7 linked regions of the Homo sapiens genome follow. The protein of the gene in region 4 purifies or fractionates together with the protein of the main gene of each other region. This does not show direct contact. Each region holds a gene or a part of one and is shown on either strand. Other genes may lie near its edges. The genes, in order: STK26, XPNPEP3, ARFGEF1, ACBD3, PDCD6, TMEM59 and GOLGA3.

Region 1 (3,500 bases), on a different chromosome or scaffold from region 4:
AAATAGAAGAGATTTCTATAGCCTGGGACATTCAGAGAGAGTTCATGAAGAAGCTAAGATGGAGGACCTTGAAAATCAGGTAGAATTTGGCCAATCACTGGTTATTGAACTGTGACTGGCATGGTAGAATTAAAGGGATTTCTTGTTGGGATGTAGTGGGAACTAAGTATAGATCTACAGAGAGGAGCCATATAACAGAAAGTATGGAAAGCTGAGCAGAGGGCTTTGTGTCTCATTGGGGTGGTGTGGGGTGGTGATTGGGTTTCAAAAGAAAAATGTGGGTTATCAAGCAGGAGAGAGATGAGATAATGGCAGTGTTTTCATGTGATTAGCCAAGCATTGTTTTGCAGGATGAACTGCCCCCCATACATCATAACACCTTTTACAAAGGAGCTCCAACTCCACAGATGATGGTTAATTCATCCTAATAACCTCTCATTGAGGCAAAGGAAATGCAGCTTTTATTATTCCCCATTTTGTAGATGATTTGCTCAAGGTCACTGAATATGAAAAGCAGAATAAAAAATACAATATCACAATGTTCAATTGTTCCTAAGTACCAGCTAAATTATATTCTCTCATTTGCTGTGACTCAAGCAAGAGAAGTACATGATGACGGACCTTTGTACTCAAGTGCCATTTCTAAACTCTGATTACTGTTGAAGGCACATGTCCTATCATACCCAATTCCTGTTTATTCTCCCTACAGTCCCTACTCCCCTAGTGTCAAAAGTTCTAACTAACCCCGCCTTCTCTCAGCTAACAGTCTTTGATTATTTTGTTCCAGCTGGTCTTCTGCCATTATCATTAGCATATTCAACACCTCTGCATTAACTACTCAATAACAAGGACAATAATTCGGGTTCACCAATGCAAAGCAATGCTTTCAACCTCAAATTGCAAATCTGATTATCCCCTTAGGGAGGTGTAAGGGAGGTAAGAACTCCACATACTGGACTCTGGTACCAACCTGAATTCTTTCTCCAATGTAGGTTTCCGGATGACTGTTAAGTAAAGAATCCCCCCATCCCCCACCCCAGTTAACTCTCTCTCTAACTTGACACACGTTCTCATCCTTTCATACATCTTAAAGCCACCCTTACTTTTCTTACACCCTTACTTTTCTTACAACCCTTACTTTTCTTACAACCTTACTTTTCCTGTCTCATGAGGGCCCTCACTTCCACATATTCTTTCTGGCATTATGAACCTCTCCCTCCTTGATGTCTCTAGTCCTTCATTTTCAAGTGAAGTGCCCGGCATAGAGTAGATGCTCAGTAAATATCTGATGAATGACCAAAGCTTCAGTTCTACATTTTCAACTACTTATTGGACATATGTACTTTGTCATCCCATTGTTACCACAAAATTCACAAGTCTAGAACAGAAATCCTTAACTTCCTACCAGATCTGGCTCTTCCCCACTACATTCCAATTTCTTTCAGATGTATCATAAGTCTCCCAGTTCCCTCCTATTAAACACCACAGTCTTTAACTTTTCCTTCTGAAACTAGCTAATTATTAAGCCTGGTAATTAATTTTTTCTTCATAGTACTAAACATATGTCCATGGAACCTGTCCATGGAAGGCCCATTGCATCTGTATAACTATGATTGACCCATTGAAATAGCCTCTGTAGCCAGGCGCAGTAGCTCACGCCTGTAATCCTAGCACTTTGGAAGGCCAATGTGGATGGATTGCTTGAGTCCAGGAGTTGGAAACCAGCCTGGACAACCACTAAACATTGTCTCCAAAAAAAAAAAAAAAAAACCATAAAAATTAGCCAGGCATGGTGGCGTGCACCTGTAGTTCTAGCTGCTCTGGAGGCTGAGATGGGTGGATTGCTTGAACCCAGGAAGTGGCGGCTGCAGTCAGCTGTGATCGCGCCACTGCACTACAGTCTGGGTGACAGAGTGAGACCGTGTCTCAAAAAAAAAAAATTAAAAAAGAAGAAATAGCCTCTGTAGATCAAACTGCCTTCCCCTCTCAATCCTCCAGTTGATTCATTCATCCAATTTTGAGATTTCTCTTTCGATATATAACTTGGTACATTGAGTCTCCCTTACTCAGAAATGTTTAATGGCTAGTTCAAAGGCCAAAATCCTTCCCTGGCATTTAAGGACAATCATGATCTGTACTCAATCCAGTTTTCCGACCTTATCATGTATCATTTTTCTAGAGGAATTCTCTATGACAGCCCAAATGACTTTATCCTGTTCTCAAAGATTGTGTGTGTGTGTGCATGCACTCACAAATGCAGTGCACCTTTCCTTATCTATATTGTATACATATGCTCCTTGACTTAAAATGTGGTTACGTCCCAATAAACCTATCATAAGTTGAAAATATTGTAACTTGAAAAGGCATTTAATACAGTACACCTAACCTACCGAACATCATAGCTTAGCCTACCTTAAACGTGTTCACAACATTTACAGTAGCCTACAGTTAAGCAAAATCATCTAATGCAAAGCCTATTTATAACAAAGTGTTGACTAGCTCATGTTATTTACTGAATACTGTATGGAAAGCGAAAAACAGAATGGTTGTGTGAGTACCATTGTAAAGTCAAAAAATCCTAGTCTGTCTACCTCTGCTGGGGATTTTTCCTTGCTTGGAAATGCCCTGCCCAGTGTGCATCCTAACAAGACTTTAGGGTCAGCTTACTTTCTGGAAGCCTTCAACACTTCCAGTGAGAAACTTCTATTATACTTACAGTGAGTTCACAGATTTTGCATTATTTGATATTTCATGTGCTAGTTTTAACAACTCAACAAGATTTTAAGATCTTTAAGGGTGGAACATGTAATATACGTCAGTATGCTTCCCAGAACCCAGTGATTATGTTCACCAATGTCGGGCAGTGTTTCCCACCACTTAGATAAAAGTCTTCAATAAAGTGATCATTAATCGTTAAACTTCATTTCTACTTCTCATCTCAAATGACAACTAGATTTAAACTGTACCACCTTGGTCATATTTAAAGATACATGAAGGCTAATTTTAAAGTTCTTTAGCAGAAGCTTTAAAAGTTCTTTAACAAGAGGCACAGCATAAAGCATAACATTTAGTACTCTAACTCAACATTTAACTTTATTCTTCCACCTACATCTTACGAAAGATTTAACAATCAACAATATTCTAAATGAAACTTGTCCTCAAAAATACTATTGTAGGCTCTAAGGGGAAATATCTTAAACTTAAGTATGATTTATAACTGAAAACTTCAAAGAAAACAGGGTTTGAATCATTAAAGAGTAAATATTTGAGTGGAAAGAAACAGGTTTATTGGTTTTTTTTTAAGTTGTACTTTAAATATTTTCAAGAGTTCAGCTACTGGTATGGAAAATTCCTCTAGTTACACACTAAAGAAGTAAGCACAAATTAAGTACAAAAAACTTCATACCCTCAACATTTGGTGTAACGTGGCAAAAAATGTTCGTTACCACAATATTAAGAAATATCAACAATATGAGTTTGAATAACTAATTCATAAGGAA
Region 2 (3,500 bases), on a different chromosome or scaffold from region 4:
TGAAAGGTTTAAAAACCTTTAAAAAAGTGAGCTATGATTTCATACACTTTGAACGTGTAGTAGAGATTGTTTTACTTTTTAAAAATTACAACAATTGGCCGGGTGCAGTGGCTCACGCCTGTAATCCCAGCACTTCGGGAGGCCAAGGGAGGTGGATTGCCTGAGATCAGGAGTTCGAGACCAGTCTGGACAACATGGTGAAACCCCGTCTCTACTAAAAATACGAAAAAATTAGCTGGACGTGGTGGCATGCGCCTGTAATCCCAGCTACTTGGGAGGTTGAGGCAGGGGAATTGCTTGAACCAGGGAGGTGGAGGTTGCAGTGAGCCGAGATCGCGCCACTGCACTCCAGCCTGGGTGACAGAGCAAGACTACGTCTCAAAAAAAAAAAAAATTACACGACAATTAAATTTCCATCTATCGTAAGTAGGAAGGTGTTTCCCATGTAGTATATATTTAGAACCATTTTTATTTTAAAAATGAAAATATGTAGGACATAGAATCACATAGGACATAGAATCATAGAATCAGTGCATATCCAATCAAAGTTTTCTGGATTTTTTCCCCTCTACTTTCCCCAAAGTACTTTTTAGTCATATAAAATATTCAGACCTTCTCACTTGGATTGTTAGGAATACTGTTTGTAGCCTACTGTTAGAAAAAAAGAACAAATGTAGATCTGATATTAAGTGCAAATCATTTTTATAATGAGCCTTTATATCGTATATCTTAGGCAAATACAGACCATTTCCTTAGGTCTCTAAAGTTGAAAGCTGAACTGTGATTGTTTACAAAGAGAATGTATAGCAGATGCAAAGGGAGAAGTGAGGAAATATCAACTGTAGTTTTTCCATAGCAATGAATAATTGCTCCAGAATGGGAGGAGAACCCTTTCCTCTAGTACTGAGATCATTATGTGAAAGGATGGGACACTTTACCCATAAAGTCATGATCTGAGTATGTTTTTCTGTCCTTCTGTGTGCAATTATTCAACAAGTGCCTCTAGCTCAGTAAGTGGTGGTGAAGAACAGTTGTTCTAATTGTTTAATAATGAAGGCCGGGCATGGTGATTCACGCCTGTAATCTCAGCACTTTGGGAGACTGAGGCGGGTGGATCACAAGTCAGGAGTTCGAGACCAGCCTGACCAATATGGTGAAACCTCATCTCTACTGAAAATACAAAAATTAGCTGGGCATGGTGGCGGGCACCTGTAGTCCCAGCTACTTGGGAGGCTGAGGCAGAAGAATCGTTTGAACCTGGGAGGCGGAGGTTGCAGTGAGCTGAGATTGTGCCACTGCACTCCAGCCTGGGCAACAGAGCAAGACTCCATCTCAAAAATAAAGAGAGAGAGAAAGAGAGAAAATCAAAGCTTGACTAAAGCTTTAGTCCCGTATCATCCTTTATAAAGAACACTGAAGTTTAGGGGCAGAAAAGCTGTATATTCAGTCTTAGAATATCTTGCCATTTCCAGGGAATGACCTTTCTAATGATTTATAATCAAACCTTTATTGCTTCAGTCCTGAGAGAGTCTTAAGTCTCAACACTTTAGAGTTCCACGTTACAGGTTTTATAGTTTTGACTCTTGTTCAAGTCGTTATGACAGTTGATATTTCTTGTTGCTGGTAGTTTTGTTTTAAATTTATTTTTCGGCTTCTCATTCTAAGCTGAGACGAACATGGTTTGGTATGACTGGATGAGGCCCTCACATGCACAGCTTCACTCTGACTATATGCAGCCCCTGACTGAGGCCAAAGCCAAGAGCAAGAACAAGGTTCGGGGTGTTCAGCAGCTGATACAGCGCCTCCGGCTGATCAAGTCTCCTGCAGAAATTGAACGAATGCAGATTGCTGGGAAGCTGACATCACAGGTATGATTCCTATTGAAAAGTTTTTTCCAGCCGGGCGCGGTGGCTCACGCCTGTAATCCAAGCACTTTGGGAGGCCGAGGCAGGTGGATCATGAGGTCAGGAGATCGAGACCATCCTGGCTAACATGGTGAAACCCCGTCTCTACTAAAAAAACATAAAAAATTAGCCGGGCATGGTGGCGGGCTCCTGTAGTCCCAGCTACTCGGTAGGCTGAGGCAGGAGAATGGTGTGAACCCGGGAGGCAGAGCTTGCAGTGAGCCGAGATCGGGCCACTGCACTCCAGCCTGGGCGACAGAGCGAGACTCCATCTCAAAAAAAAAAAAAAAAACAAGAAAAAAAGAAAAAGTTTTTTCCAGATTGGAAAAATCGTAAGCTCTTGAGGTCGTATACCCAATGCAGCAGTCTCCTCACCGCAGAATGGCATCTAGCTTCTGCTCCAGTGTGTAGTGAACATACCTAGAGACTTGCTTAATACCTTGCAAGACAAAGTAAATCTGCCTTCTGTTAAGATGGTTCTTTTACCCATCAATCTTAATTATTTCTCCTTAGAACGACAGAAATTAATACTGTTTCTTTTCCTTATAGTTACACTAATAGTGTCAGTTAAACAGTTTGGTTCTAAGAAAGACTCAGGACCCAAAGTGACAATGCTTACAGATCTGCAGTTTATTATAGGAAAAGGGTAAAAAATAACCATAATATGAAAGTAAGGATATATATCACAGCCAATGGCTGTCTCAAAGCAAGGAGTCTAGAGAAGCCAGGTGCAGGCTTCTCTGGTCCTCCCTAGGTGAGGGCCAGGCAGGATGTATCTTTCTCTTACAGATTAGGAATCACCAGTGTTGTCATACTCTGCTCAGGCTGCCATTACAAAATATCACAGTCTGCATGGCTTAAACAAGAGAAATGTATTGTCTCATAATTTTGCAGTCTGGAAGTCCGAGATCAAGGTGCCATCATGGTCCATTTCTGGTGAGGGCTCTCCCGGCTTACAGAAGGCGGCTTTCTTGCTGTGTCCTTACATGACAGTGAAAGAGGGCCTTTTTACAAGGCCATGGTCCTATCAAATTAGAGCCCCACCCTTAATTACCTAATTTAACCTTAACTACCTCCTAAAGACATAGAGATTAGAGCTTTAACACATTAATTCTGCGGGAAACACAATTCAGTCCATGGCACATGCAACAGACTACCTCAGAATCAGAGACTCCAAAATGGAATCTCAGCTAGGGATTTTTGTTTTTTTGGTCACATAATCATATTCCTGCTACGTAACAGTAAAGCCCCCCGAGAGTTTTCACAGAGACCAAGTGTAAACCATAAATCTCACTGGCAAACTGATAGAAACTATCCCAAAACTCCCTATTTCATTTATTCTCTCCAAGGTGTTGGCCATTGACTTAATTTAAAAAAATCTTTTTACTGTGGTGAAATGTGCATAACATAAAATATATCATTTTAACCGTTTTTAAGTATGCAAATCAATGACATTAAGTACATTCACATTGTTGTGCCCACTTTTTCCCGACTTTCTCCATCATTCCAAATAGAAACTGTACAGATAAATAATAACTTCCCATTCTCCCCTCCTCCAGCCCCCAGTAACCTCTACTTTCTCTGTGAATCTACCTA
Region 3 (3,500 bases), on a different chromosome or scaffold from region 4:
AGACAGTAAAACATTTTCATCCTGCCTTTTATATGTATTTTAGAATGTTTTAATGATAGAATTTTCAGATGATATAATAGGATATTTTCTACTGAGAATAACACAAAATAATTTCAATTTGTTTTGTCTGTTTTTTTTTTTTTTTTTTTTTTTGAGACGGCGTCACGCTCTGTCACACAGGCTGGAGTGCAGTGGCGCGATCCTGGCTCACTGCAAGCTCCGCCTCCCGAGTTCACGCCATTCTCCTGCCTCAGCCTCTCGAGTAGCTAATCTCGTGTAGCGCTACCGCGCCCGGCTGATTTTTTTTGTATTTTTATTAGAGATGGGGTTTCACCGTGTTAGCCAGGATGGTCTCGATCTCCTGACCTTGTGATCCTCCTGCCTTGGCCTCCCAAGGTGCTGGGATTACAGGCGTGAGCCACCGCGCCCGGCCTGCCTTGTCAGGTTTTTTGCAGGGAGGTTTTTTTATCAAAGAAATGAGCCTTTCACTTGTCTGGTTCTTTTCCTGGAATAGGAACTTTGTGGATGTAGTGAAAGATCTCAAGGTGAAGTTGAGATCCTCAACTTAGAGCCTTTAGGTGGGCCCTAAATCCAGTGAATGGTGTCCTTTTAAGGAAGAGGAAGGGACACAGTCACATACAAAGGAAAAAGTCCATGTGAAAATGGAGACGAGATCAGTTACTGCTGCCACATGCTATGGAATGCCAGAAGCCACCAGAAGTAGGAAGAGGCAAGGAGGGATTCTTCCCTTTGGATGTAGCATAGCTCTGCTGTGACCTTGATTTTAGATTTTGGGCCACCAGAACTATGAGAGGAAATTTCTGTTGTTTTAAGCCACCAAATTTATGGTAATTTATTAAGGCAGCCTTAGGAAATGAATGCAAGTTCCCTTTTATCCTAACTTTTCAGACCCATTTTGATTTCTTTATTCAAGTTTCCACTTACAGAGTCTACTGTACATATGTTTACACAATCAGATCCTGTCTTTGGCTCATCTCTGATTGTTTCATGAATCTAGAAAGCAGTTATTCTGAGGCTTTAGTGTGTTATAAGTAGAGGCTCTTGAAAAGCTTCTTAAAAGGTCTGGGCTCAAGTATTTAAGAATATTTAAAAAGTTTTGTGTTCTGCTTTTGATATTTTGTTTTGCTTAGACTTAGACTTGATGTAACTAAATTTGTTTATATAACCTATGTTATCTTTTCATTCAGAAAAGTCTTTGAAAATCTTTAAAATGGCCGGGCGCGGTGGCTCACGCCTGTAATCCCAGCACTTCGGGAGGCCGAGGCAGGTGGATCATGAGGTCAGGCGTTCGAGACCAGCCTGGCCAGCATAGTGAAACTCCGTCTCTACTAAAAATACAAAAAGTTAGCCGGGCGTGGTGGCAGTGGGCGCCTGTAATCCCAGCTATTTAGGAGGCTGAGGCAGGAGAATCGCTTGAACCTGGAAGGCGGAGGTTGCAGTGAGCCAAGATTGTGCTACTGCACTCCAGCCCGAGAGACAGTGCGAGAGTCCGTCTCAAAAAAAAAAAAAGAAAATCTTTAAAATATTTCATATTACCACTGGCGTGTCTTTAGGAAACGCCATGTGAGGCTATTAATTTTTCTTAACAAAAATGTGTACATTGAGACTTCATTTAATCAGCTGTTTAACAATCCTCATCTGTCAGAACTTTGCTAAGAAATAATAAAAATATAAGCAGTCAAAGTACATATTTTGAAGGCCAAGCACTTTATATAGAAGAGAATCTCTATGGCTTTTACTCAGTCTGTATGCTTTTATAATTCCAGTAAGTTTGGTAATTTGATATTTTTTATAAACGAATCCTTCAAATCATTTTCAAAAGTGTAACTACAACAATAAAATTTACTGTGATACGGGGCCCGGCGTGGTGGCTGGCGCCTGTGATCCCAGCACTTTGGGAGGCTGAGGCGGGCAGATCATGAGGTGAGGAGATCGAGACCATCCTGGCTAACACAGTGAAACCCCGTCTCTACTAAAAATACAAAAAATTAGCCAGTCGTAGTGGCGGGCGCCTGTAGTCCTAGCTACTTGGGAGGCTGAGGCAGGAGAATGGTGTGAGCCCGGGAGGCGGAGCTTGCAGTGAGCCGAGATTGCGCCACTGCACTCCAGCCTGGGTGACAGAGTGAGACTCTGTCTCAAAAAAAAAAAAAAAAAAAAAATTTACCGTGATACTCTTAGCTGAAGATAAATAACTACTGTTAACTTTTTGAAAAACAACTTTCTGATAAATGATTTACATACTATAGTATTTACTTTTTTTGAGTGTAATGATTTTTGGTAAATTTACTGAATTATGCAGCCATCAGCATAAATCCAGTTTTAGAACATTTCTATTACCTCAATAAAATCTGTAGTGCCCTTGTTGTCATCCCTAGCTTCTGGCATTCACTAATCTATTTTCTGTCTTTAGAGTTGCCTTTTCTGGACATTTCATGAAATGCAGTTATACACAGGTGGTCGTTAGTGTCTGGTTTCTTTCAGTATGTTTTTGAGGTTCATTCATGAAGTTTGTATCCACACTTCATTTCCTTTTATTGATGAATAGCATTCCATTGTTTAGATATCCTATATTTTGTTTATCCATTTACCAGTTGATGGATATTTGGGTTGAATGAATAATACTGCCATGAATATTTGTGTATAAGTCTTTGTGTGGACGTAAACTGTTATTTGTCCTAGGTAGACAAACTGGGAAGGGAATTGGTGGGCCACTTGATAAATTTATGTTTAACTTTTTAAGAAACTGCTAAATTCTTTTCCAGCCTACATACCCACCAGCAGTGTATGAGGCTTCCCGTTTCTTCAAATTCTCACCAATATTTGTTACTGCCTTTTTATTTTTAGCCATCCTAGTTGTTATGATGAAGTGTTACTTCATTGAAACACTGTTAACTTTTTGAAGTACAGATTAAATATCCTTTATCAGAAATGCTTGGGATCAGAAATGTTTTCAATTTTGTTTTTTTTTTTTTTTTTGGACTTTGGAATATTTGCATATACATAATGAAATATCTTGGGGATGAGATTGAAGTCTAAACACAAAATTTACTAATGTTTCACATCCACCTTATACACAATCCAAAGGTAATTTTATGCACTATTCTTTTTTTTTTTTTTTTTTTTTGAGACGGAGTTTAGCTATTGTTGCTCAGGCTGGAGTGCAGTGGTGCGATCTCAGCTCACTGTAACTTCCGCTTCCCAGGTTCAAGTGATTCTCCTGTCTCAGCCTCCCAAGTAGCTGGGATTACAGGCATGCGCCACCATGCTCAGCTAATTTTGTATTTTTAGTAGAGATGGGGTTTTGCCATGTTGGCCAGGCTGGTTTCAAACTCTGACCTCAGGTGATCCGCTGACCTTGGCCTCCCAAAGTGCTGGGATTACAGGCATGAGCCACTGCACCTGGTCTTATGCACTGTTGTTAATTTTGTGCATGAAACAAAATTTTGACTGTGTTTTGACTGTGACCCATCACGTGAGAT
Region 4 (3,500 bases):
TCCTGCAACTGGCGGATGAGAATTTGCTGCTGTTCGTAGTTCCCTGGATACTGTTGGGCTGCATACTGCTGGAACTGCACGGCAGTCTGGGAGTTTAAAGCTGCCATTATCTGCTGCCTAAAAACATTAAAAATATATATACTAGTCTGGCTACAGGAGATTGTTCATGACAAAATAAAATGTCCTTATTACTTACTTTTACAGTCTGTAACTCTTAAAAACAACTAAGCTAGTAATGTACACCAATTAGTATGTGTTCTGGGTCCAGAAGAAAGATTTAAGAAAATAAGCCTGGCCTCTAATTTTTTACTTAGGATTTTCCAGGAAAATTCGGGATGGAAGATAAGCATATGATCATCATCATCATGACCACCATCATAATTATTAACATTTATTGTGCCCTTACTATGTGCCATGCAGTGTTGAAAGTACTCACACATACTAACCCATTTAGTCCTCACAACAACCCTCTGACAGAGGGTTCAGTAACTTGCCCAAGACTATACTGCTAGCAGATGCTACAGCCTGATGCAAATCCAGGCAGTTTGGCTCTAGAGCTACACTAATTTACCACGATGCTTTAAGATGATGGATTGTCATCTCTGACATAGATGAGGTATTTAACTGTTGGCTATGGCTTCTGTACCTAAATACATAAAAAACAGTAAGAGGCAGAAGAATAGCTGGAAGATGTTACAGGTGGCCCTGGTAAGTATAAATAAAGCCAGTGAAAAATTAAGGGTCCACAGCATTTAATTTAAAGCCTGTCTTAATAGAGGAAATACTGAAAATATCTTGGCATGCTTAGTTTAGAGATACTCATATTCTTTTATAGATAAACCACATGCTTCTTCTTTTTTTTTTTTTTGAGACGGAGTTTCACTCTGTCACCCATGCTGGAGTGCAGTGGCGTGATCTCAGCTCACTGCAACCTCCACTTCCTAGGTTCAAGCGATTCTCCTGCCTCAGCCTCCCAAGTAGCTGGGATTACAGGCACCTGCTACCACGCCTGGCTAATCTTTATATTTTTAGTAAAGACGGTTTCACCATGTTGGCCAGGCTCGTTTCAAACCCCTGACCTCAATCAAGTGATCCGCCCGCCTCGGCCTCCCAAAGTGCTGGGATTACAGGCATGAGCCACCACAGCCAGCAACCACATGCTTCTTAACTTACTTATGTGACCAACTTAACAGAGACCTCAAAGCCATCTATTAATAGATAACAAAGCAAAGCCTCACAAACTCCTACATACAGCACAACATTCGATCCACCTAGGACAACCTCCCCCAAAAAAGAGCTGCATTCATAGTCTTTCTCCAAAGTTGAATGAGGGCCTGGATTAGTTTGAGGCTAGCACTAAACCTTTTTCTGAGGAACTACCCAGAAATAATGAGAAGAAATCAATGGACTCTCATGTTCTCTGGTTTAACCTACAAGCCATGCCACCCCTACAAACTCAGACTTACTTCCCAGTGTTTTATGGGTGTTAATCACTGCCTCCTTGTACCCACAGCTCCCTCTTGAAGAACCTGTCAGTCTCTGAGTCTCAAAGCCCTTACTGAGTAAGCAATAGTTGAAGCCTCCAAATCTTGTACTAAGGACTATAAATGGATATCTGACATAGACTGGACCAACAAGATTCTCTGTCCTGGGAAACTGCAACTGGGTCTCACAGATTCCAGCCAGTCTCTGTCAGATGCATGGAAACATAGACCAAATAAATCCTCGGACAGCCTTGCATATGCCAAAGCAGACAGTTGACAATTTGCAGAGAGCAAGGATGAAGCAGAGACATAAGCTGAGAGAAGCAGAGACAAGAAACAGAGAGCGCAACCAAGCAACCTCAGCTCCTGCTTCCAATCTCTGGGTTCTGCAAGTGAACCCCCAAACCTTCTAATACATTCCTTTTTTTTTTTGAGACGGAGTTTCACTCATTACCCAGGCTGGAGTGCAATGGCGCGATCTCGGCTCACTGCAACCTCCACCTCCTGGGTTCAAGAGATTCTCCTGCCTCAGCCTCCTGAGTAGGTGGGATTACAGGCATATGCCACTGCGCCCAGCTAATTTTTTGTATTTTTAATAGAAACAGGGTTTCACTGTGTTAGCCAGGATAGTCTCCATCTCCCAACCTCAGGTGATCTCCCAACCTCAGGTGATCTGCCCGCCTCCGCCTCCCAAAGTGCTGGGATTACAGGCGTGAACCACCACACCTGGCCCGCTCATTTCTTATTTTTATTCTATTTTTTTTCCATTTCTCATTTTAAAACATAAGCCACATAATAAACTTACTTTTGCTGCTCCAACCGAAGCCTTTCTTCTTCTATCCGTCTCCTTTCCTCTTCCTCCCGTCGAAGCCTTTCCTCTTCTTCTCTCCTACGTTTCTCTTCCTCCTTTTGCAGACGTTCTCTTTCTTCCTCTTCACGCCGCCTTCGCTCCTCTTCCTCCTTCCTACAAGGCAAAGATAGAGAATGAACCCTATACGTTGAATCCTGTTTAAAAATAAAACTTTAGCTCCCAGGGAAAACTGACATGACCTTTTTAGAGAACAATGTGGATATATACATCAAAATTTAAAATACATACACTTTACTAGCAGAAACTTATAGGGAATCAATCGCACAATATACAAATCACATCAAGAATAATTATTGTTGCACAGCAACAGAAATGTGTCCATCATAAGAAACTACTTAAGTCATTATGATATTCCTATACCCTGAAGGATCCCCTCTAATATATGCTCACAGCACTAAAAGCTTTTCCTTCATAATACCTGCTGTCATTATAATTAAATTTGTGTGATACATTCAGCAATAGATCTGCATTACCCATTAAACTAGATGCTCCATAGGGGAAGAGACTGCCTATCTCACACCACGACATCCTCAGGGCTTAGCACAGTGCTGGAAAGAACAAGCACTCGACAAACGTGTACAGAAGTAAAAAATCCACCCTGAAATATCGCAGAGCCAAAGGATAGAAATACATTGCCTAATATGTAAAGACATGTAATACACTTGCTTAATGAAAAAAAAAAAGGTGAATACAAAGGAAAAGATCTGGAAGGACATACCCTAAATTTATCAGTTATTATCTATGCAGAGGAGAGTGGAATTAAAAGAAATGTGGGAAAAAAGATTTTTTTCAGTTTGTGTTTCATATACTGCCATAAATGAAAATTTTATATTGCATATATTTGTGTATTATTTCTGAAATTAAAATTTTTTGTAAAGCTTTTAATTTAAAAAAGAACGGTTAACCTCTCAGGGCAGCCCTTGCCCAGCTTTCACCCACCCCACAAGACCCTTCCAAAAAGAACAGATCCTATTGTGCTAGGAATGGACATCTTCCGGGTCTGAGAGTGGTATGGTGTTCAGGGAGCCTGCAGACAGGATGAAAGGGAAGATTTCTAAGGAGTATCAGATAAGACACTATTTCATAAACCTACCACGAGAATTGTCTGGGCTACCTCACCTTTCTCCCCTCTAACTCCTATAAGT
Region 5 (3,500 bases), on a different chromosome or scaffold from region 4:
CCCTCACTGGTGTGCACGGGGACGGCGGCCATCACTGGGGTGCACGGGGACGGCGGCCATCACTGGGGTGCACGGGGACAGAGGTCATTACTGGTCTCCTGCCAAGGCTGGGGAAGGACAGAGGAGATGCTGACAGAGGCAGAGGAACTCCAGTCTGCACAGACAACAGGAGCAACCCCACTGCCTCTGGAATTAACTTCCAGTTTCCTTGGTCATCAGTAATAGTGAAGGGAAAAGAAAGGCAAAGTCAGACAGCAAAATGAGGGATGAACAAACGAACTACAAAAAGAATGTTTATCTGAGAAGCCAAAATCCAGAAGCAACTGTTTCTGAGTTTCTGTTCATGAAAGTCAGTCCACATGAGGCCACCAGCGTCCCTGGGCCCACCCCTGACACACCCCTTGCCAAGGTCTTTCTCCTCTTTCGGACTCTCTGAAATGCTGTGAACGAGCCAAGCGGAGCATGACCTCCTCAGAAATCACCTCTTCCACCTCGGAGGACAAACCAGCTGCCCCCACTCAACAGGCTGAGGCTCCCTGGGGCTCCCCCCAGCTCTTGGGGGCCTGGTACAGTGGCAAAGGACCACAGCGGAGGAACTGTTCTCCGCCCGACTGCCTTTGTCAGACACGCACTGCCCACCAGAGGGGAGAATCTCACCGGCTGTTTACAGCAACCTAAACGGCACGTGCTGAGTCAGCTGTCCCGGTGCCGGGTGGTGAGTGCTGGAATGTGAGCACGCCTTCCTCACCTTTTCACTTCAGGTCTCTGAGCATGGCACACAGTTGATGTTAACAATAAAGGCTTAAAAAAACGAATCGGTGGATTATGAAATCCACCATGTGGCCCCATCAGAGACACCCGGGGAGAAATCTCGCAGGCTTCACCACCCTGGTGATTCCCTCCTGCTGGCCACCAAGCTCCAGTGCAGCCTCCCTGCTTCATCTGAGAGCAGAACACTTGTTCACAGGGGCCAAGACAAAAGAAGAATTTTTGCTTCTGAGGCCAACTTCCTAACAGTTACTATGGGAAATCTTTCAAAATCATCAAAATACAAAAAGGATGACAATGCCCCTTTCCAAGGAAGACGTGGGAGATGGCCCTGGAGATCAAGAACCAAACGCAGGAGGAAACTCGTGAGGGTAACCAGAGAAAATGCTGCGATGGGATGCCGCACCCCAGGAAAAACCTGGAAGTCAGGAAGGGTTCTGCCGCTGCACAACACAAGCAGGCCTGCCCACTCCAGGGCGGGAGGAAGGCTGCGTGACCGGCCGTGCCTCCCGCCACAGCTAAGCACAGTTTTCTGGGAAGTCCTTGGCCAGACCAGGACGAAGAGGGCCTCAGAGACCAGGGAGCACTGTCCACAGCAACTTCCACTGCACATTCTGAGGACCGATGGTCACTGGCATGGACAAAGGGAGCTCCAGGGCCTGACAAGGTTAGGAAAAGATGTCCGTGGCGCCAGAGGTCGCTTATCTAAAAATAACTTCAGGCCGGTCCTGAAGTCCACGTGGCCCTGGCCGCAATCGGCAGCACTGGCCTCCCTGGCCCCCAGGACCACTCTCTGTGGAGGGTGGCATCCTTCCCTCCCAGCCCTTCCGTACCTGCCCCAGGGAAGAGGAGCCGGCCAGCGTTCCCTCCAGTTCCCCCACCCAAGGGCACAGCAAGGTCAGCTGCATTCCAAGTACCAATTCAGAGCCATCCAGCCCAAATCCTGGCTCGCAGCTGGTCAGCTCAGAACTGCTTCTTGAGGAGACCCAGTGTCCACCCCCGGCCCTGTGGACAAGCTCGTAAGGTGAGAAAGAAAAGAGAAAGAAAGGCAGCCACAAAGTGCATGCTGGGAGGAAACACGAGGAGAGGCGACGTGCTTAGATAAGTGAGACTCCAGGGATCTCGGAGGTACTCAAGTAGAATCGAATTTTCCTCACTGTTTCTAAGGAGCCTTTTAAGCAAATCACGGAAGCGGCTTCACAACAGGGGCCAGATGAGATCCGCATGGATTAGAATCTCGGTGCAGCCACCAACAGCCTCAGGCTGGCCCCAAACATGCCCGTTGTTCCTCTGTAAATAAAACCCCTGCTTCCTCTCAGCCCTGAGAGCAGCACGGGAAGCCCCGTGGACAGGCCCTATGGACGCACTCTGGACAGGCACTGTGAACACTCCTAGACCCACGGCACACCGTCACATGTGTGTGTGCACACGCGTCAAGCACACACACGCTGAGCGCACCTGAGAATGGGCACGCGTTCTGCCTAACGCCCCTTCTGAGGCGCACGGCACACGTGTGCACACACACGCCGAGCACACACACGCCGAGCACACCTGAGAATGGGCACGCGTTCTGCCTAACGCCCCTTCTGAGGCGCACGGCACACGTGTGCACACACACGCCGAGCACACACACGCCGAGCACACACACGCCGAGCACACCTGAGAATGGGCACGCGTTCTGCCTAACGCCCCTTCTGAGGCGCACGGTTTGGACCTGGTGACTGACAGCTGTTTCTTAGGTGACTGTTGCCTTTTCAACGTGCTTTGATCTATCATGAAATATAAGCTGCCCTGCCCCACGGTATTTTCATGGATCCACTTTTAAATGATTTCAAAAGCCACATTCTCAGTTTTGCTCACGACATCATTCCACTTCAGAAAAGATGAACGGCTTGCATAGCCCTTATCTCATTTTGGATAAAAACCTGAATAAACGTATCCATGTCGAGGATCGCCTTCCGACATGAGCAATATCAAATATGAACCTGCATGACGTCAACAAAAACTTTACGTAGCCTGGTTAGACAATCAGTTAAGTCCAACAAGGTTTAAAGAACTTCAACGGCTCCAAGGTTCCAAAATGAAACACGCTACACAAGCCAGAGTGAGTGAGTTACCGAAACCTGAGAGGGCCTGCTTCAGCTCGTTCTTATCGATCATCCCGGAGTTGTCCCGGTCGTACGTGCGGAAGACGTTCTGCCAGTCCGTGATGTACTTCCACACACCCGTGAACTCGCTGAAGTTCACGCCGGCCTTGTTCTCACGGTCAAACATGGCTGAGACAGAGAGGAACGGTCAAGCAGCAAAAGATCAGTTGCAGCAAACTCACTTGAGGCTTCCCACCAGACCTCAGCCCTCAGAGCCTGGCGGGGCCCCACTGCTGACCACTAACCAGGGACTGGGCAATGCATGCCTGTCTGTGAATGGGGTGAAATCCCTTAAAGTCTTGTCACCTTCGCCCTGGGTGGGGGTGTGGGGGATTGTCCCCCAGCCCTGACCCCCTAAGTCCCAGGAGAAGGTGCACTTGCAGCTGTGAGGCAGGCCGTGCAATGGGATGTGTGAGGAAATCCAGCCGCAGCCACGACAGAAAGAAGAGCAGAGCTTCACACTCAGCTTCCGAGGCACGGGGAAGGTAAGTGGCCCCAGCTCCCCTGGCTCCTGGGTCTCGGCCTAGAACGCGAATCTAATTCCCAGAGCTGACCCTCTGACTCTCCAGGGCCCACAGCACTGGT
Region 6 (3,500 bases), about 170 Mb from region 4:
TAGGAAGCAGAGGTTGCAGTGAGCCAAGATCCTGGCCACTGCACTCTAGCCTGGGTGACAGATGAGACTCTGCCTCAAAAAAAAAAAAAGTCTTCTTTCCCATATATCCCCTAGAAACTGATGTCAACAGGTCTTTTCAGTCTTAGAGAGTCAGAAAGAGACACCGTTCTCAAGCCAGTCAACATATATGTCACCACGGTAGTTAGCATCACAGAAAGCTGAGAACAACAATTCTTGTGCTGCAAACCTGTAATTTTTATGTGTGCCAACCTCTACCACATTAAAACCACCACATCTTCTCTCTTTCTATTAGTAGAAAGGCCTTGTTTTTCCAGCTAAACAAATAAGGTGTTTAAAATGATATATCACAGGGCTCAGTCTTCAAATGGTAAGAATTAAATTTACCTCAGAGGGAACATACTGCTCCACAGCTGTAGCAACAGTTGCACAACAAATCCAAAGCAATACCATCACCGAGAGGACAAGAGTTGTAGTTAAAATCCACCCAGAGTTACTGGAAAAAAAAAATCAACAATTAGTTATATTAAAATTTTATAAGAAACAGGAAATTCTTAATTAGTCAACCTTATGTACTTAGCTCAACAGTACAATTAAAACTTTGTTGGTTATCTTTGAAACTATTAAAAAACATACTTACAGAAGGAAATATTATACTAATAGCTATTACATTAGGTTGGCATAAAGTCTTTTTCCTCCACTTCTAATGTTTCTGTAACATGGCTATATCACTTTTGTAATAATAATAAAATCAGATATACTTGACTTTCTGCTAAATATATAAGGCAAGTGAAAGTGTCCTGTAAATTGTACACTGTTGTACAAATGTCATATATTATTTTGCAAGTTATTACGATACTTGCTTTAAGAAAACCAATATACCAAAAAGTTAAGGTATAGAATAGGTAAATTTAAAATGATCATTTGTTTTATAAAAGAATTCACACCAGGCTTCCAGAAGTCAGTTTCCCTAGAATACTTTACATATTCAATTTGCCATAATTTACTTATACTTCAATTTAAAAAAGCACAGCTATTATAAGGCATTCTGTAACCATTACAGCATATCTCAGTAAAGAGATAGTTATATTTTCCTTATAATTAAAATATCTTAAGACAGAAGGCCAGTTATGAGAATCAGCAATTAGAGATTTTTTATTTATTTTTATTTATTTTGAATTTTTATAGAGACAAGCTCTCACTATATTGCCCAGGCTGGCCTTGAACTCATGGGCGCAAGCCATTCTCCCACCTGGAGTTTTTTTCATAATTGACCTATTAAGATTCAAAGAATAGGAAAAAGTCAAGCCATTTTTAAATAATTAAAAGTCTAACTCTGACAAACTGTGTAATACAGATACTCCCTAATTTTCACATCTCTGCTCATCCAACACTGCCTAGTAAGAGATCTATACTTACCACCCTAATCACTCACTTGATAGTTTGCCAAGACTTGAACATGCAGTAAGCACAGTCATTGTTTGTCTGCCAGCAAAAGAGGTGGACTTTGGAGAATGTATTGTATCTAAAAGCAGGGAACTCCCATATGATTCTTTAAGTATCCAATTTAGAAAGATAATAGAGTAAAATATGTTTTTAATGAACAAATACCCACTTTCCTCTCCATGTTCCAGCCCTAAGTAACCTGAGTACTAAGGAATTTACCACAAAATGAGGATATATTTGATATCTAGATTCCAGTAGCAACTACCTAAGCCAGAAAACTGGGGCTCATCCCTTCAATCTCCACAACAAAACAATGACTAGATCCTACAGATTTTCAACTATCTCCATTATCTCCTGTTCTTATCTACTGCCCTAATCCAGACCTCATAATTTCTTCCCTGATTTACCAAAGTTCTCCAACCTGGTCCTCTAATCTATCCTTCACATAGAAGCCTCTTCTTGACACTTATGTTCCTGATTCTCTCTATTCCTGTTTTCCCAGTTCAGTCAAATTTCTGACTCTCCTTATCCTCCATATATAGTAATGTACCCTATACACATTGAGCAGGAGGCCAGTATATCTGAAAAAAAAATTTTAAGTAAATCTTCTGCTATAACTAGCAAAAATTTCTACTCATCACTTGAGATATTTCTATCTCACCTGTCAATCCTCCCCTTGAAACCTCCAGTAGACTTAAATACAGTCCTTATATGCTGTGTATGAGACATGTGTAGGACTGTGTGTGTGTATAGCAATCATTATTGTCCATGTCTGTTTAGATCTGAGAACTCCTGACATCTTTACTAGGTCTCAACTCCCTAGCACAGTGCCTGGCTCCTCAAAAAGAAATGCAAGTGAAGAAAGAGTGACCTCAATTTCCATTCTGGAGACAAGGGTGTCTCTTTAACAGCTACGACCAGATTCCAATAACTGGCTGAGTGATTCTGTATGTAATCATGGAAAAATCATGACACTTTAGGAAGTAAATAGTTACAGCAGAATAGGATGAGCAGAAGATGTACAGTTAGAAAAATTAGGTTTGAATGCTAACATAGTGACTGTATAACCTTGCGAGTAGTCAATTCACCTCTCTAAATCACCACCTACTTATCACAGGGTATTGTTCTAAAAGTCAAATGGGATCACTGAAGGGGAAAAAGCATTTAAAAAAAGAACACTTAAAAAAATAATAAAATTTGAGACAGTCTCGCTTTGTCACTCAGGCAGTGCAATGGCACGATCACAGCTCACTGCAGTCTCAACCTCCTGGGTTCAAGTGATTCTCCCACCTCAGCCTCTTGACAACTGGGACTACAGGTGTGTGCCACCATGTCCAGCTAATTTTTTTATTTTTTGTAGAGATGGATGGGGTCTCACTATGTTACCCAAGCTGATCTTGAACTTCTGGGCTCAAGTGATCCTCCCACCTTGGCCTTCCAAAGTGCTGGGATTACATGCATGAGCCACCGCACTCGGCCAAAAGAATAATTTTTATTCAAATGTAGGATCCTATTATAATTTATGTTTGGGCACAGAAACTTCTAAGAAATACATTTCTATAAATACATTATAAAGTTAGTTGCTTCACAAAATTACTTTTAAAGTGTTAGATGTAAAAAAACAACATAACATATAATGACAAAATGTTAAAGGTCAATAAATCACCAATAATATGCCAGGTAGTACAGTACTGAGAACTGTAACTTAAGATTAAATAATTATTTAGGTTTCACAGAACTATCAAACTGCAACATACATCCTAAATACTGGAAAGAAAAACTGCCCTTTTTTGGACAAGCTCAAAACCAGGTTTAGAAATGAACGAAGGATAAAATTTAAAGTTTAATCCTTGTTTTCTCACATAGTCTTTAAACATTTTGCTTAGTAAAAAGTATTAATTTGTAAGGTCCACATAATTGTAATGATATATGATAAAACCTCTCAAGAAACTGTTTCTATAAGAAATTACAGGGAGCATGTGATTTGGACTACTGCAGTTTTATACTTGAGATAGAACAGTCCACTAGAATGAACA
Region 7 (3,500 bases), on a different chromosome or scaffold from region 4:
CTCCAGGTCCCAGCACGACTGCTTCAGGGTGTCCACCTCCGAGCTCAGCGAATCCTGCCGCTGCTGGCTGCTGTGGCTGCACTCCACCTGCGCCTGCAGCTTCGTGCTGAGGGCGGCCAGCTGGGCCTGCAGCTCAGCCTTCTCTTTAAGTGCCTGAAAAGATCCCAACAACCACAATGATTTTAAGAAAACGAGTCACTTCCATCCAGTGTATTAACAGGAACACAACCAGCGAGTCAGTCAGGGCCTGACAGGGGACCCCGAGACCCCCAGGCGCTCTCCCAAGGCCTGACAGAGGACCCCAAGACCCCCAGGCGCTCTCCCAAGGCCTGACAGGGGACCCCAAGACCCCCAGGCGCTCTCCCAAGGCCTGACAGGGGACCCCAAGACCCCCAGGCGCTCTCCCAAGGCCTGACAGAGGACCCTGCCCCGAGACCCCCAGGCGCTCTCCCAAGGCCTGACAGGGGACCCCGAGACCCCCAGGCGCTCTCCCAAGGCCTGACAGGGGACCCCGAGACCCCCAGGCGCTCTCCCAAGGCCTGACAGGGGACCCCGAGACCCCCAGGCGCTCTCCCAAGGCCTGACAGGGGACCCCGAGACCCCCAGGCGCTCTCCCAAGGCCTGACAGGGGACCCCGAGACCCCCAGGCGCTCTCCCAAGGCCTGACAGGGGACCCCGAGACCCCCAGGCGCTCTCCCAAGGCCTGACAGGGGACCCCGAGACCCCCAGGCGCTCTCCCAAGGCCTGACAGAGGACCCCGAGACCCCCAGGCGCTCTCCCAGCACAGCCGTCACAGAAAAAGGCGACTTTCCAAACAGGCCCAGGACGCACAGGGAGCCTGCACTGGTTTTGGGCCCAACTGCACCTGCACAGGGCAGCGCTAGGGCAGGGCTGGGGAAGCACCCGTCTCCTGCGAGGACACTGGAAACGTGTTCAAAACACCAAACGTGTACACGGGTGCACATGTATGCGCACACACACAGAATGCCAGACGTGTAGAGGGACCCCTGAGAGATTAAAAGCGGATTCAGATCTGGGGGGAAATGGGCAAAAAACACAGGCAGGGAAAGGCGGCTGCCTAAGTGCGGCTCCAGCCAGAGCCACGGGACACAGCACAGTCCTGAGTGGCCACCGCAGTGCTGTGTGGTCCCAGGAGCAGCAGAGAATCGCCAGAGGAAATCGCCCCACCACCTGCCCCCACGCTGAGGCCTACAGGGGCAGGGATCCAGTTCACACATCACCAAGACAACAAACACCCAAAGCAATTGAGGAACTCCACAAACTCCAGGAGACCCTAGAGCAAGGGGCCAGCAACCACCACACCTGAAACAACCCTCACGATCTTGGTGTGGATGCAACCGAAGGACCAATCAGTGATCCTAAGAGGATAAGAAGACAAAGTGCAGTGACAGCAAGCCACCGTTCGAGAGAGTGGCTACACAGAGGAGGGGAAATGCATCCGACGGAGGGAGGCTCACGCTGTAACACTGGAGAAGTGACGACCGTACAACCAGAATTAGCCTCAAAACAGCCGAAATCACCTCTTCTGTAGACACAGCTTTAGGTGTCACAAACTGGTTGGTTTGTGTCCAAGGACCATGTTGTATGAGAAAACCATCTTCGACATGAGGCGTGCATTTAGCAAGGCAAGCTCCGGACACTGTGAGCAGCTCCAGCCCTGCTCTGCGGCCTCGCAGGCCACAGGAGGCTCCCTCAGCTGTGTCACCTCAGGGCCTGGGTGCATTCTCACCCTCCCACGCCAGAAGCGGACAGCTGAACCCCACTGAACAGATTTACTCAACTGCCGACAGAAGATAAATACCTAGCTCTTCACTGTGGATAAAGTGCATACGACAAAATGACAAAGGAGAGCTGAAATAAGGGATGGAAAATGATGTTTCTGGCACATGCTAACCAAGCCAGCGTGTGCAGCTTTCTCTGATACAGCACAATTAGTATCAGAAAAAGCAGAAATCACTACAAAGAAAAAAGGTTCACCATGCCAGAAAAAGCTGCAACCCACCAAGAGAATTTGACTCTTATGGACTGTGAGACACCTAACATCTAGCAAATATTCTGGTAGAGACGCAGGGAGAAACACGCCCATGCACGATGAGGCAGAAAACTCACAACTCTTTCTAAGGCTGACAAGTAGACAAAAAACGTAAAGATGCAGAACCCTCGGCTGCCACACATGCTGCGGCGGCTGATTCCCAACCACATCTGTGAAACCTCGTACCCAACAGAGGAGCCACACATGCTTTCCGACTTCGCCGCACGCTGAGATGTCAGTCGAACGTCCGTTACCTGACTCGCCTCCAGTGACAAGGCTTCCAGCTGTCCTTCGAGTCGCATTTTCTCTTTGAGCACCTGCAGCATCTCCTCCTGTGTTTCTGCTGCAGAGCTCTCCAAGGACACGCTGGGGACAAAGGCACGGGTCAGGCCTGTGCGAGCCATCCTCATTTTCTTTCACACTCCTCCACATTCTCCAAATTCCACACACCCCTGCTGCTCTCTCCCAATTTTTTAAAATTAAGTAAGAGATTTAAGTAGAGAGCTGAGGCTTGCATGATGCACGGATGAACATTCCTGCCAACAGTTGGCACCTCACGCAGTGGGAACTGTTACAGAAACATGAGACATGCAAGCGTCGTGCAGCTTAGTGACAAGTCTATGTAAACGGGAGACTGGATATTTTAGTAACACAGACCATTGCTGATCTAATTCTACTGATTAAAAAGCAGCAGACTTGTTATGAATTAAATGTTCATGTCAAGACTAAGGATAGAATCAGGAAGAAAAGCTGTGTATCACCTGTTCCAGTGCGGAGAGCCGTGGGCCCGGGAAGCAACATCTCAGGCCAGGCCCTCTGCCTGCCCTGCCCGTCTCTGCCCACCCCGCCCCCTCTGTTGGCCCCACCCACCTCTGCTACCGCCCCACCCACCTCTGCCCGCCCCACACCCCCCTCTGTTGGCCCCACCCACCTCCACCCACCCCGCCCACCTCTGCTGTCCCCACCACCTGCTGCAGATGCTGTCTCTCCGACTCCGCACCTCCCCGTTGACCTCCTGCCCCTGGTCTTGGTGCTCAGCGGCTGCGGCCTGGAGGACGTCCTTAATGGAGGGGAACTGGCCCAGGGTATCCGCAGGAATCTCCTGGCCGTTGACCATATAGGGGGTGTCCTGCGTGCCCACTGTCTTCGACAGAATGCCATAGGTCCCTCGGGTGGAGGCGCTGCTGTACGATGAGCTGTCGCTGTCATTTCCATCCACCTCAGACACGCTGTCTCCAGCCAGGGAGGTGTTCTCCAGACGGTCGTCAGTGTCGGGGGACAGGCTGATCTCAGACACAACGGACGCCGCACTGCTTCTGTTCTGCTTCAGGGAACCCTTGGTAGAATCGGGAGCCGGGACATTTCCCCCAGAATTCCCCGCATTTGAATCTTCAGTTCTGTAATCGGCCAGAGACCGGATTTTGCTTGATTTGGAAGTTTTTTTCTC

The links.
Region 1: the proteins of ACBD3 (region 4) and STK26 fractionate together in Homo sapiens (co-fractionation; one large-scale study listed by BioGRID). This does not show direct contact.
Region 2: the proteins of ACBD3 (region 4) and XPNPEP3 purify together in Homo sapiens (pull-down; one large-scale study listed by IntAct). This does not show direct contact.
Region 3: the proteins of ACBD3 (region 4) and ARFGEF1 fractionate together in Homo sapiens (co-fractionation; one large-scale study listed by BioGRID). This does not show direct contact.
Region 5: the proteins of ACBD3 (region 4) and PDCD6 purify together in Homo sapiens (pull-down; one large-scale study listed by IntAct). This does not show direct contact.
Region 6: the proteins of ACBD3 (region 4) and TMEM59 purify together in Homo sapiens (co-immunoprecipitation; one large-scale study listed by IntAct). This does not show direct contact.
Region 7: the proteins of ACBD3 (region 4) and GOLGA3 purify together in Homo sapiens (pull-down; one study listed by IntAct). This does not show direct contact.

Annotation. Positions count from the first base shown.
Region 1 is NC_000023.11:132,026,302-132,029,801, reverse strand, and holds part of STK26 (serine/threonine-protein kinase 26), read right to left. Parts: intron 1-3,500. UniProt on the Homo sapiens protein: Serine/threonine-protein kinase that acts as a mediator of cell growth. Modulates apoptosis. In association with STK24 negatively regulates Golgi reorientation in polarized cell migration upon RHO activation.
Region 2 is NC_000022.11:40,884,648-40,888,147, forward strand, and holds part of XPNPEP3 (xaa-Pro aminopeptidase 3), read left to right. Parts: intron 1-1,665; coding exon 1,666-1,868; intron 1,869-3,500. UniProt on the Homo sapiens protein: Catalyzes the removal of a penultimate prolyl residue from the N-termini of peptides, such as Leu-Pro-Ala. Also shows low activity towards peptides with Ala or Ser at the P1 position.
Region 3 is NC_000008.11:67,333,782-67,337,281, reverse strand, and holds part of ARFGEF1 (brefeldin A-inhibited guanine nucleotide-exchange protein 1), read left to right. Parts: intron 1-3,500. UniProt on the Homo sapiens protein: Promotes guanine-nucleotide exchange on ARF1 and ARF3. Promotes the activation of ARF1/ARF3 through replacement of GDP with GTP. Involved in vesicular trafficking.
Region 4 is NC_000001.11:226,159,242-226,162,741, forward strand, and holds part of ACBD3 (Golgi resident protein GCP60), read right to left. Parts: intron 2,449-3,500; coding exon 2,290-2,448; intron 118-2,289; coding exon 1-117. UniProt on the Homo sapiens protein: Involved in the maintenance of Golgi structure by interacting with giantin, affecting protein transport between the endoplasmic reticulum and Golgi. Involved in hormone-induced steroid biosynthesis in testicular Leydig cells.
Region 5 is NC_000005.10:306,146-309,645, reverse strand, and holds part of PDCD6 (programmed cell death protein 6), read right to left. Parts: intron 3,045-3,500; coding exon 2,886-3,044; intron 1-2,885. UniProt on the Homo sapiens protein: Calcium sensor that plays a key role in processes such as endoplasmic reticulum (ER)-Golgi vesicular transport, endosomal biogenesis or membrane repair.
Region 6 is NC_000001.11:54,036,205-54,039,704, forward strand, and holds part of TMEM59 (transmembrane protein 59 isoform 2 precursor), read right to left. Parts: intron 515-3,500; coding exon 406-514; intron 1-405.
Region 7 is NC_000012.12:132,804,870-132,808,369, forward strand, and holds part of GOLGA3 (golgin subfamily A member 3), read right to left. Parts: coding exon 3,022-3,500; intron 2,420-3,021; coding exon 2,308-2,419; intron 154-2,307; coding exon 1-153. UniProt on the Homo sapiens protein: Golgi auto-antigen; probably involved in maintaining Golgi structure.